Homo sapiens: one gene and its partners. The protein of the gene in region 3 purifies or fractionates together with the protein of the main gene of each other region. This does not show direct contact. Each region holds a gene or a part of one and is shown on either strand. Other genes may lie near its edges.

Region 1 (2,477 bases), on a different chromosome or scaffold from region 3:
TTCTGATTCTTGTAAATGTTCAAATATCTAATTAGGTCCAATTGTAATTATTAATAATGAGTAAAATAATTCTAGTTTCTATACATCAGGTTAAAAAACTAATCTGGACGTATTACCTTTTCCAATACTCACATATTGGGCTACAAAATGACTTGATATATAGTAACTCTACATTTGTTTTCTTCATCATTAGAAACACATCTAACATTTATGTATTTCTTTATGTAGATCACTTCAAAAGGGATCTCAAACACTTTTCTAAAAATATAGATAATTGGGATTACTGAACAGTAATAGGAAAATTGCCTTTTAATCAGCGTTTTACTAATGGCCTTTCCATTTCCAAGAAAAAAATCCAGACATGTATGGGTTTACTAATGTCCCTTAAAAGAAAGAAAGTGAAATAATTCCAAAATATGTCCAAACAAATCTGCTTTATGTGTCTGGAAATAAAAGAATACCCATTTAAATATAATAGTTTCAAATTTTTGTACATAATTTTGTCTATACAGACCTTAAGATCATATAACATTCCAACAATCAAAACTTTTAAAAATATATGAAACACAGACAGTATCTGGTTATAAAAGATTTTAATATCAAATAAAATGTACATGATCAAAAGGCTTTGATTGCCATGTAAAGCATAGTTTCCAGGTTACATCAAGTGATTTTATCTTCTCCCATTTCAAATGAAATGTTGAAAGCACAAACAATCTGCCATGAATGATAAGAAGCAAAGGCAGCACATATCATCTGCAAGTTTCTTCCCAAGCTATAAAATATCATGTTCATATTTTTCCTGTTTGTGATCCCAAAACAGGCAATATTTTCATTTCATCCACTCTATTCTTATGTATTTGAAAAGCAGGTGTTATCCACCTACCACAAGAGCACTGTTCACCATACCAGTTGAAGGAACCCAACTTGGCACTGCATTTTGGGCAAAGAAGCTGAAATAAAGCAAATGTGTTACTTTATTCATTCACTTTTATACAAAACAAATCATTATCTTTGGCAATCAATATAGGATATAAAAACAAGACACGATCCCCACGTTGAGTTTATAATCTAATCAGTGAGATAAAATGCATTGGAAATTTACTGTAATAGATAGTAGACTACAATTATCTCATAGGAAGAATGTTGTATTCAGGGAGCTTGAAGGGAGAAAAGTGAAGCTTGAGATTTGATTAAGGAAGGTTTCATGGATGTGGCATATATATATATATATATATATATATATATATATATAGCTTTTAAATCAGTTTGTAATTTAGGACTTCAAATGAAAATGATCACGGCTAAAGTATAGAAAAGCATGTTAGGATTTTCATGCTGTATTACTAACTGTGTGTATTGACAGCATATAAGTCAGATTCTTAGCTATTTAAAGACAAACTGATATTCCAGGAAAATAGGTAAATCAAAAAAGCCTAATAAGGCAACTGCATTTTCTTCTAATGTAGTTAGTTATAGCATTAATTTTTATGTTTAGCTCTTTGATTTATGCATGGTATAAGGTAAGAGTTTTTATTTTTAATCTTGAGCTATAGAAAACTAGACATAAAACTCAGAAGCAGGCTGAGTGTGGTGGCTCATACCTGTAATTCCCAGCACTTTGGGAGGCCAAGGCGGGCAGATCACCTGAGGTCAGGAGTTTGAGACCAGCCTGGTCAACATGGTGAAACCCCGTCTCTACTAAAAACACAAAAATTAGTTGGGCATGGTGGCGGATGCCTGTAATCACAGCTACCTGGGAGGCTGAAGCAGGAGAATATTTGAACCCAGAAGGCGGAGGTTGCAGTGAGCCAAGATCACACCACTGCACTCCAGCCTGGGCAACAGAGCAAGACTCCGTCTCAAAAAAAAGAAATTCAGAAGCCATAAATAAAAAAACTAACAAATTTTATTATGTAAATATCCTTCATTTTAATATGACAAAACATAAAAAATCTGATAAGCAATAGACTGAAGAAAATAGTTGCAATATATTAGATGAACTATTAACATCTAGAATATATAGAGGTCCTACAAATGAGTAAGAAAGAGACAAAACCCATAGGCAAATGGGCCTAGGAATATGAAAGCAATTTATAGAAAAGAAAACAGTAAATGGCTGGTAAATATATAAAGATGGTGGTTGATGACTATTTTCATAAAATTCCAATTAAACATTTTAGGATTAACATTTTTTACCCCACAGACTGACAAAATGTTACCAGTTTTATAGTATCTATTATGTCAAGGATATGGAGTAACGGGTACATGCATTCAGTTACTGAAAACCAAATTTGTATGGGCATTTTGAATATCAGCCTGGAATATCACTAATATTTAAAATACATTCTTCGAGCCAGGAATTCCACTTCTAGGTACATATTCTACAGAAAAAAATCAAATATGTATACAAATAAGTATGCACAGGATTTAGAATCTTACATAAAAATGTATTTAACTTGGCTGGAGTGTGTGTG
Region 2 (3,500 bases), on a different chromosome or scaffold from region 3:
CTATGGATAAAAAAGGGACAAACTATGGATACACACAGCTACCCTGGATGAATCTCCAGAGAATTATACTGAGTGAAAAGACCAATCCCAAAAGGTTCCTGTATGTGCTGTATGGCTCCATTTATACAACATTCTTGAAATGACAGAATTAAAGAAGTGGAAGACTAGGTAGTGTTTTCTAGGTGTTAAGGAGAGACTGGCATGGGAGGGAAGCAGGAATAGCTAAAAAGGGCAACATATGAGAGATTTTTCATGGTGATGGAAATGTTCTGTATCTTGACTATATCAATGTCAGTATCCTGGTTGTGATGTTGTACTATAGTTTGGCAAGATGTTACCATTGGGGGAAACTGGATAAAGGGTGCACAGGATCACTCTGTGTTATTTCTTACAACTGCATATGAATTTATAATTATCTCAAAAAGTTTAATTTAAAAAAGTCTTTAGTCCTCTTCACCCATTGGACAATCGTTAAATATGTGCTCTGATTTGTATTCACTTTATGACTTCTTAGGGAAGCTATTAACAGAGTCTAGTGAGTAAGGTCTAACTGAGGTCTTGGAAGTTTTCTTGGCAGGTTTCTAGTAATTTAGTCTAATGAATTTGTATAATATTATTATGAAATCATACAAATCTGTAATTTGTTCAAGTGTATTTTCTTATGGGCCATTGTAATATCCAAAGAAAATGGCAGGCTGGTTGCGGTGGCTCACGCCTGTAATCCCAGCACTTTGGGAGGCCAAGGTGGGTGGATCACCTGAGGTCAGGAGTTCAAGACCTGCCTAGCCAACATGGTGAAACCTCATCTCCACTAAAAATACAAAAATTACCCAGGCATGGTGGCACATGGCTGTAGTCCCAGCTACTGGGGAGGCTGAGGCAGGATAATTGCTTGAACGCGGAGGCCTCTGCAGGTGAGTCGAGATTGCACCACTGCACTCCGGCACCAGCGACAGAGTGAGACTCTGTCTCAAAAATAAAAAAAGAAAAAATTGCAGAAGCATTGTCCTTCTTGTGGATTTAAGAGAACATTAGGATTATTTGGGGGCATGACCATATGAACTATAATTCCATCTCTAGATGAAAAACAAAATTTTTTCTTTTTCCCTAATGTGAGCTCTACCACATCCAGAATAACCCACTTGCACCATTTTAATTAACATTGAAAATTAAAGCCAAATCATACATTAGAGACAGGCTCTAGTCGTTAAAGACTCAGCTCTAGAGGTCAGGACAAGAGAGGAAAAATATTAGGCTTTGGGTGAATACATAATATTTGTTTAAGGAAATCAAGGTAAGTGGCTCCGTGATATGAAGTTCGTCTAAATTGATACTGTGGTATCACAAAAGAAGTAGGAAATGAGGAGCGTAGATGTTTTGTGTGTTATCATGTCTTCGTGATATTTACTGACCCTCGTGTGGGACTGGTCCTCAGGTACAGTTTGTCAGCTATTGTCATCAGTTCCAGCCTAGCACTGATAGCCTTTATGATACAACCTGACTTACATATTGTAAATGGAGCTTTGTAAAATACCATTAATTATTTCCCTATATAAATTTGTTCACAGGGATTTGATAACAATGAACAAGGATGATCGGTAAAAAGTTAACCTGTATTTCACCCTGACCAGGAATTTGGGATTTGGACTTGATAGCATGGTATCTGGCACATTGCAGGCACACAGTGAATGTTTGTTTCATGAACTAATATTGCTATTTTTGTGGTCCTTACTGCCTGCCCATGACCCTGCTTCCACGGTCCTTCCAGAGAAGAGCTGAGTGGGCAGACAGGGTGCCCTCGTAGTCTCTCTCAGTGCAGAGAAGTGCAGCCTGGGTGGGGGAGCAGCGTCAGGCTATGTAAAGAAGACTACAGATAGACTTGGGCCAGCTTTTATTTCACACTGAAAAGACAAGGAAGGGAACAGATTTAAAGAGATTTAAGTACCAGCATTCAAGGTAGATTAGAAATACTTTTTCTTAAATGTATCCTGTTTGGTTTAAATATAAGTATTGGCTTTTTAAACTTATTTTTTCCCACTATGAATAGTATTTTATTTATAAAAATGCTTTTGTGGACTAATCTGGGATCTAGCCTCCATTTATAATGTGAAAAATATGCATTCTGAATTCCAAGTAATGACTGAGAGTGAATTTTCGGAGCCCAATTTGTTCTTTAGTGATGGCACATAATTTGATTCTTATTCTTTTATCTTTCTGTCTTGCTTTCTTGTTTGTGGGCCACAGAGCAGCTTCTATTAAGCCCTTCTTTGCTTCCTTTTCACTACTTTGTTACTCGTCAGATATTTTTCTGGCCTCACAAGTTGATGCCTCACCTACAGATTTTCTAGAGAATTTCTTCAGGCTCAGTAACCTGTCTGTATTTAATAGAACAGTGAGTTCTTTTTCTCACCACACTTCTATTATAACTTAATTTTCTATTTACTGTAGATCCTTGCCAGCACATTACAGAATATTTTTGTTGAACCTTCTTGAGAATTCAGAGAAACTGCTGAGTGACCACTGAACGAAAAGATCTAATCTTAAGGCTTACGTGAGTATTTACTACTGTGGACTTCCTCACAAGATGTGAAACCTTCAGTGAACTGCTTTAGGACAGATTCAGTTCTGTGATCAAGATGAAAAATAACTATCATTGGGCTTATTAAATGTGGGATTAAGTTTAGTAGTTGCTCAGGGACACAGAGAAACTGACAAAATACACACTTGTTCTCACCTGAAAAATAGACACAGAGACTTGTATTTCTTGCTGAGCCAACACTCAGAAGTATCCTAGTCTGCAAACCACAAGAATTCTTACTGTGTCTGAATCAAAAACACCAACTAGATTTTTTAAATTATCTATTTTTAAAAATTTAACCAAAACACATTACCTTTTGAAAAGCACTTGATATGTGGCATTTCATTTTGAAAAAGGTTTATGATAGCTTTTCCATTTTTATGATTCAATACTGTGCAAGCTTGTCCAACCTGCAGCCCAGAACAGCTTTGAATGTAGCCCAACACAAATTCATAAACTTTTAAAAAACATTCTGAGATTTTTTTTGCAATTTTTTAAAGCTTATCAGCTATCATTATGTATTTTATGTGTAGCCCAAGACAATTCTTCTTCCATTGTGACCCAGGGAAGCCGAAATGTTGGACACCCTTGCTGTAAGGGAAAATATTTAGATTACCCTCGCAAAAGAATTCTTGACTATTTTATTGAGTAAATTCTTCTCATTGAGTTTTTCTGTTTGTTGGTTTGGTTTGGTTTGGTTTGGTTTGTTTTTTTGAGACAGGCCTCACTTTGATGCCCAGGCTGGAGTGCTGTGGCTCAATCACAGCTCATCGCAACCTCGACCTCCCGGGCTCAAGTGATCCTCTCACCTCAGCGTCCCGAACAGGTGGGACGAAAGGCGCGCGCCACCATGCCTGGCTAATTTTAAAATATTTTATAGAGACAGGGTCTCTCGCTATGTTGCCCAGGCTAGTTTCGAACT
Region 3 (3,500 bases):
CTTGCAGATACTTTCTCTCATTAGACATTCTACTCTCTGATTCTGAATTTGACTACTCTATGTACCTGATATCAGTGGATTCCAGAGTGAATCAGAGTGTAGAATAGTAGTTTCCAGGAGCTGGGATCAGGGGAATAGGGCGTTGTTCTGTGGGTGTGCGGTTTCAGTTATGCAGGATGAGGAGGTTCTAGAGATCTCCTGTACAGCTTCATGCCTATAGTTCATACAGATAAAGTGCTCCTTATTCAGAAAGCTTAAAACCAAGTGTTTTGGATTTCTAATTTTTTTTATTTTGGAATATTTACAGTACATGTACTGGTTTAGCATCCCAAATCTGAAAAATTTAAAATCCACAATGCGCCAGTGAGCACTTCTTTTTAGCATCACATCAGTGGTCAGAAGGGTTGAGTTTTGGAGCATTTCAGATTGTGGATTTCTGGATTTCCGATGCTCAATTTGTAATACTGTAATTTTCCCATAAAAATTTGTCAGGAGTTTAGACCTTATGTTCTGACTCTAGTAACAACAACAGCAAAAAATTTGGAGGAAACATTGAAATGTTTTCATAAGTGGAAATTTTTACTGATGATCCAAACATCTAAGATCAATTGCTGGTAGTAGTATTTCTCTTGAGACCAAAATAAGGTTTAGGTGTGCCGTGAATTCCAGCAGGATCACATTATGCTCAAAGAAAGATGCCAAAGGTGATTTGAAATTAGCAACTCCTTAAGTAGAGAGAGTCCCGTTAAAAGGACAGAACTGGTTAGTGTGTCAATTGCATAAAGGGAGGAAGGATGCCAAACTAAAAGAAGTGATGTGTGTTATGTTAGTAAATATAGAAAGAACCTGCTTCTAATTTCTGTGCAGAGTTAGGAAAAATGGGGAGGACCCCAAAACAGGTATGTGAAATGCTTTCTTCATTTTCTCTTAAGCTCAGGAAACACCACTAGTGTTTAAGTTTGTGTGAATTAGAAAGAGTCTAAGTGAGATGCCAATGGTTTGTGTGTCTCCCCACACGCAGAACTCCAACTTATGAAAACGGCATCATCATGAGGAAACAGTTGTATGTGGCACAGGCAGTAAAGCCATCAGATAGCACCCACCTGGCCACCTCCACCTGGTCCCCAAAACCACCAGTATTCCCATTACGTGTATCTTATAGCCTTTGTAGTTGTCCCACAGCTACAAAATTTAAAAATTGCTATTGTCAAATCAAAATATTAAATATGAAGTTGAAATGTTGTTCCACTTTTTTTCCCCACTCTTGTTGAACTTTCCTGTTTCAGTTTTGGAAGTTTCTATTGACATATCCTCAAGCTAGGGATTCTTTCCTCAGCTATGTTCAGTCTACCAGTAAGTATCAAAAGCATTCTTCATGTCTCTAAAAACATTTTTTTTTTTCTGAGACAGAGTCTCGCTCTGTCACCTAGGCTGGAGTGCAGTGGCATGATCTCATCTCACTGCAAGCTCCACCTCCTGGGTTCATGCCATTCTCCTGGCTTGGCCTCCCAAATAGCTGGGACTACAAGCGCCTGCCACCACGTCCAGCTAATTTTTTGTATTTTTAGTAGAGACGGGGTTTCACCATGTTAGCCAGGATGGTCTCCATCTCCTGACCTTGTGCCTGCCTCGGCCTCCCAAAGTCCTGGGATTATAGGCATGAGCCACTGTGCCCAGCCATCTCTGAGGGATTTTAATGAGTTGTTGACTTTTGAGTTTGTTCAGCTTTTTACTTAGTGTTAGAACCGAGGAACAAATTTCAAGCTTGTTATATGCCTGACAGGAAGCCAGAAGTCTCTAGGAAGTGACCGGAGAATGTGAGCTTTATAGCAGGTTGAGGATGGAGTCACAAGTGAAATGGGTGAAATGAGCCCATGGGGTTTGGGGACTGCAGGCCTGTCCAGCCTCTGACACTCTGGTGAGTCAGTGCTAAGATTACAACAGTGACAGCAAACTAGCATGGCTGAGTCCATCTGGTATCTAGTCTCAGGCTGGCTGTCCTCACTCATTCCTGGGCATAGGCCAGGCTAACCTTGGGAGGAATTTAGTTTATTGTTTAACTTTGAAGCAAGAATGATAATTGTTCCTCTGTAAAAGTAACACCCTTACTTTGCCCAGGGACTGCCTTTGTAAAACTAGTGAAAGACCATGAGATTAAGATTATAGGAGGGAACTGAATTCTGCTAAAATGTTGGCAGAGTTTTTATAATCCTTGACTGCTCAAATGTCGTTGGGCCAGAGTTTACAAAATTTGTAACTAATTGCTCCTATAGATAACATCACTATTGTAGAACGTGAGATTGGTCTTTTGAGATGTTTCTCATTCTTTTGCATTCTGGCAACCGGCTGACCTCATCCATACCTATGACTAATGGCTCAGCCCGTCATGTGGTCCCTACCTAGAGGTGGATTCAAGCACAAACAGATCATTTCCCTCCGCCCGCATGATTCCATCACCAATCAGCAGTACTCATTTTTTAGTCCTGTGCCCCTGAAACTATCCTTGAAAATCTCTAAGCCCTGATCCACTGGGGAGGCTGATTTGAGTAATAATAAACCTCCATCCTCCTGTTTGGCAGACTTGGAGTCATTAAAATCTTTCTTTACTACAAACCACCATTTCAATACATTTGTGTGTGTGTGTGTGTGTGTGTGTGTGTGTGTGTGTGTGTGTGTGTGCAGGAGGCCAGAAGAACTTGTCTGGCAATTATAAGAGTGGATGGAGAAACTGCCTATCCCTGTCCCATGGTCTTGTCCACAGGTCAGCCTCACAAAGGGAAAGAGCCCTGGATGGGAATACAGTGGAAACTCATTCTCTTAGTGACCTGGGGACATTGGCTCTAGAGGAAGCCTGGCAGGAGTGGCAACTCCAGGTGATTTCTGCACCTTTCCTATTTCCTGGGAGGTGGGCCAGGCCACAGTGTTAGCGGGAAGGGAACTGAACAGTCAGCCTAGTTAGAGGGAGTGTCTGGGGAAGACCTAGGGGTGGGGGAAGAAGCTGTGCAGGACAGGGCTTGCCAGTCAGAATGAAGTGGGAGGAAGATGAGGGACACAGAGAAGCAGAGAGAGGCAGAGACACCATGGCAGTGAGCAGTGAGGGCTACACTGACTTCAGAGACCCCAGGGACCAGGTGCCCCCAGTTCCACAGTCCAGGACCAAGGAGCCCTGAGAACCCTCCGGTGGCCAAAGAGCTTCAGAGTTACATGAGGTGGGGTTGCTTTAGGGTCAAGAGGTAGTGGGGGGATGAAACGTGGGTGTCAGCCTCTGAAGGACAAGGGACAGGTGTGGCTAGAACCTCCTAGGATTCTGCATGCAAATTCAGTCTCTAAAGAGGTTTTGGATCATTCATTTCTTCATTCCATTTCTTCATTTGTTATGTAAGAGCTCCTGAGTGTGTCTGTCTCGCTGGGCCTATGGTGGTGTAGGGTGTGAGTGGGGAAAGAAAACAAGGTCCTCTCCTTGATCCTCTTGTGACAGTGACATGGACACTTTGGGAAAC
Region 4 (3,500 bases), on a different chromosome or scaffold from region 3:
CATCCGGAGTATTTTTATTTTCAATTTAATTCTTTTCAATCTGGAAATTACCTCATTCATTGTAGTTTTAATGGCACTCAAAATATTTTAAACAATAAAGTTTATATTCTTGCCTTATTTCTTTACATATTCATTGGCACAACTCTGAAAAAACTAAGTCATAAAAATAGAAAGTTGCTGATTACATGGTGATTACAGCAGCTGGGTAACCATGTACTAATGCTACATAAGGCAGCAGTTAATTGAGAGACTAAAGTTACTTAGAGTACAAATGGAAGTTTAAAATGTGAAATCTGTTGGTTTTAGATCAAAGAGATTTTTCCTTCACTAATCATACTTCCAATTATTTTGATTTCTGATATGAGATATATTTAAGACTTCATAAGAAAAAAGTACAATGTGTATAATTTTGTCAAATCGTGGTAATTAATCAATGGAAGTTAGATTAGCAAATTCACTTCTTTAGTTAAAAAAACACACACACACACACACACACACACAACAAATCAAGGCTTGAGCCTACTTGCCCTCTCTTTAATTTTATGCAACCCTTTATTTTGAGGCTTTAAAATTTAGAACCTGTTTTTAGACATAAAAGTTTTGTTATTTTAAATATGTTTTAATCAACTTGTGACTTCAATAAACTTATTTAAAGAAAAACTTTTCTATTTATAAAGGTAATACATGTTGCTTCAAAAAATATTTCAGAAAATACTCAATAGTATAAATAATATGAAAGCACCCATAATTTCATCACTCAGAGTACATTATGGTTAAGATGTTTGTGTATGGCCTTCCAAACCTTTAAAAAAATGAACATATATATATATGTATGTGTGTGTGTATGTTTCTAATAAGAAAAATCAAAATATTACACATATACAGACAACATATGTTGTTTAATTTTGGAATTCTCAGTTTACCTTTTTTCCATATAATAATGTTATTCATGTCAAAACAGATCACATCTTCATTTTTAACATACGCTAAGTATGCTGATATAAGGACACAATGTAATCCCCTATCAGAGGGCATGCAAGTATTAACTTTTAAGAGTGGTAGGTTCATGAAAAAGAAAGTGGATGTTTAAATCTTATGTTCAAATAGGTTTCTTCTCTTACAAAGCTAGCACACAGGCCGGGCACGGTGGCTCACGCCTGTAACCCAGCACTTTGGGAGGCCAAGGTGGGCGGATCACCTGAGGTTGGGAGTTCGAGACCAGCCTGACCAACATGGAGAAACCCCGTCTCTACTAAAAATACTAAAACTAGCCAGACGTGGTGGCACATGCCTGTAATCCCAGCTACTACGGAGGCTGAGGCAGGAGAATCACTTGAACCCAGGAGGCAGAAGTTGCGGTGAGCCGAGATCACGCCATTGCACTCCAGCCTGGGCAACAAGAGTGAAACTCTGTCTCAAAAAAAAAAAAAAAAAAAAAAAAAAAAAAAAAAAAAAAAAAAAAAAAAAAAAAAAAAAAGCTCGCACACAGATCTAGACTAAGACTAAGAGGTTGCCTTATTGTTGGTTTATGAGATAAAATTAGTTTTAAAATTAACTAGTTCGTTTTATTATTTATCATTATCTGATAATATATGACTTTTATAATTTCAATGAAATAATCACAAATTATGATAATTGGTTTAAATAAACACATACCCATATATAAACTGGCAGTAATTTCTAGAGTGATAAAGAGTTGATGAAAAGTTCCTAACAATTTCATATACATACTCAAAGTAGTCATGTGCTAAATAAAAGCATACATTTAGATTAGCTGAGTAAAAAGTACTAAATGTATATTTTAAGCATATTATACTTCAGAATCACATTTTCAACCGAGATAAAGTTGTGAAGCTGGAAACATAATGCTTCTAACATTCTGAGGTACCATGTCATTGAAAAATTGTCCTTGCTGTTTTGAATCTGCTTTTGGAAGGCAATGGGTATAAAAATAAAGGATTATCAGAAAGTTACTTCCATTAGGAACACTAAACACTTAGCATGTACAACCAGCAAGTTTGAAAATCAATTAAGTCATCAGGCAAATGCAAATTAAAACCAAAATGAACTACTACTTAACAACCACTAAAATGGGTATACTAAAAAAGACAGTAACAATGGTTGGTGAGGATACTAAGAAACGGGAAGCCTCACATATTTCTGATGATAAAGTAAAATGGTACAATTTTGAAAAACAGCTTGGTAATTTCTTAAAAACATAAATATAAACTTACCATACAACCCAGTGGTTCCACTCCTAGGAATCTACTCAAGAGAAATAAAAACATATGTCTACACAAAAATTTGTATGTGAATGTTCACAGCAGCATTATTCATAATAGGCAAACATGGGAAACAACCCAAATGTCCATCAACTGATGAATGGAAACAATATGTGGCATATCCTTAAAATGGAATATTATTCAACAATAAAAAGGAACAAAATACTGATATATCCTGCAATACGAAGAACTTCAAAAATGTTACACAAAGAGCTAGAAACAAAAGATTACATACTATAATTCTATTAACATAAAATGTCCAGAAAAAGTAGCAAGATTAACTTTCTAACAATCACCACCACTATCATCATTTATTGAGTATCAATATATTCCAGTATTTTGTATCTTAAAAGCTTACTGGCAAACGTCAACATCAGTGACTATCATCTTAACTTATACATCGACATTTTACTTGATATAGTTTTAACCAAAAAAAAAAAAGTTATAAGTTCACTAGGACTTATCTAGTTTATACACAGGTTAAATGCTTTAAAAAATATCTCTCTGGCTCCCTGACTTTGGTACATTTTAATTCTCAGTATCTCCACTCAAAATGGGCAAGGTAGAAGAAAACTGTCAAATTCTGTAGTATAGCAACTAATGATGAAAGCATAATTAACAAAATACTTTAAAGAAATACATATATTCCAGTGATCCACGAATAACCAAGAGTTGTCTATGAAAAACAAGATTCATTCTAATTTCTCTCAACTTCAACACAGAAGATATTTTGTGTGAAGGACTAGAGTAGTAAGAATTGATATACACTAGCCTACTAATAGCATACACCTTTGAGAAAATTTATTTTCTTCTACACTAGAATGTGTTTTGCCAACAGAATGACATTCTGTTTTTAGTGTAGTGTTTAGAGGCTTTCTGGTGACGGACAGGATTTTAAAGACCTGGAACTATATCTGAATTGTAAGATTAAGAACTTAAAAAAAGGGCTGGGTGTGGTGGTGCACATCTGTAATCCAGCACTTTGGGAGGCCAAGGCAGGTGGATCACTTGAGGTCAGGAGTTTTGAGACCAGCCTGGCACACATGGAGAAACCCCGTCTCTACTAAAAACACAAAAAATTAGCCAAGTGTGGTGGCAGGTGCCTATAATCCCAGCTACTCGGGAGGCGCAGGCTATAGAATCTCTTGAACCCAGGAGGTGGGGGTTGCAGTGAGCCAAGATCGTGCCATTGCATTCTAGCCTGGGCAACAAGAGTGA

Evidence for each region. Proteins that work in one complex are often made in the same cells at the same time.
Region 1: the proteins of PSG3 (region 3) and DUSP12 purify together in Homo sapiens (co-immunoprecipitation; one large-scale study listed by IntAct). This does not show direct contact.
Region 2: the proteins of PSG3 (region 3) and ANKRD46 purify together in Homo sapiens (affinity purification with mass spectrometry; 3 studies listed by BioGRID and IntAct, with this or other methods). This does not show direct contact.
Region 4: the proteins of PSG3 (region 3) and NGLY1 purify together in Homo sapiens (co-immunoprecipitation; one large-scale study listed by IntAct). This does not show direct contact.

What each region holds. Positions count from the first base shown.
Region 1 is NC_000001.11:161,755,262-161,757,738, reverse strand, and holds the end of DUSP12 (dual specificity protein phosphatase 12), read right to left. Parts: intron 954-2,477; coding exon 792-953; 3' UTR 501-791; downstream 1-500. UniProt on the Homo sapiens protein: Dual specificity phosphatase; can dephosphorylate both phosphotyrosine and phosphoserine or phosphothreonine residues. Can dephosphorylate glucokinase (in vitro).
Region 2 is NC_000008.11:100,532,260-100,535,759, reverse strand, and holds part of ANKRD46 (ankyrin repeat domain-containing protein 46), read left to right. Parts: intron 1-2,448; 5' UTR 2,449-2,551; intron 2,552-3,299; exon of another isoform or gene 3,300-3,404; intron 3,405-3,500.
Region 3 is NC_000019.10:42,733,982-42,737,481, forward strand, and holds part of PSG3 (pregnancy-specific beta-1-glycoprotein 3 precursor), read right to left. Parts: intron 1-3,500.
Region 4 is NC_000003.12:25,759,444-25,762,943, forward strand, and holds part of NGLY1 (peptide-N(4)-(N-acetyl-beta-glucosaminyl)asparagine amidase), read right to left. Parts: intron 1-3,500. UniProt on the Homo sapiens protein: Specifically deglycosylates the denatured form of N-linked glycoproteins in the cytoplasm and assists their proteasome-mediated degradation. Cleaves the beta-aspartyl-glucosamine (GlcNAc) of the glycan and the amide side chain of Asn, converting Asn to Asp.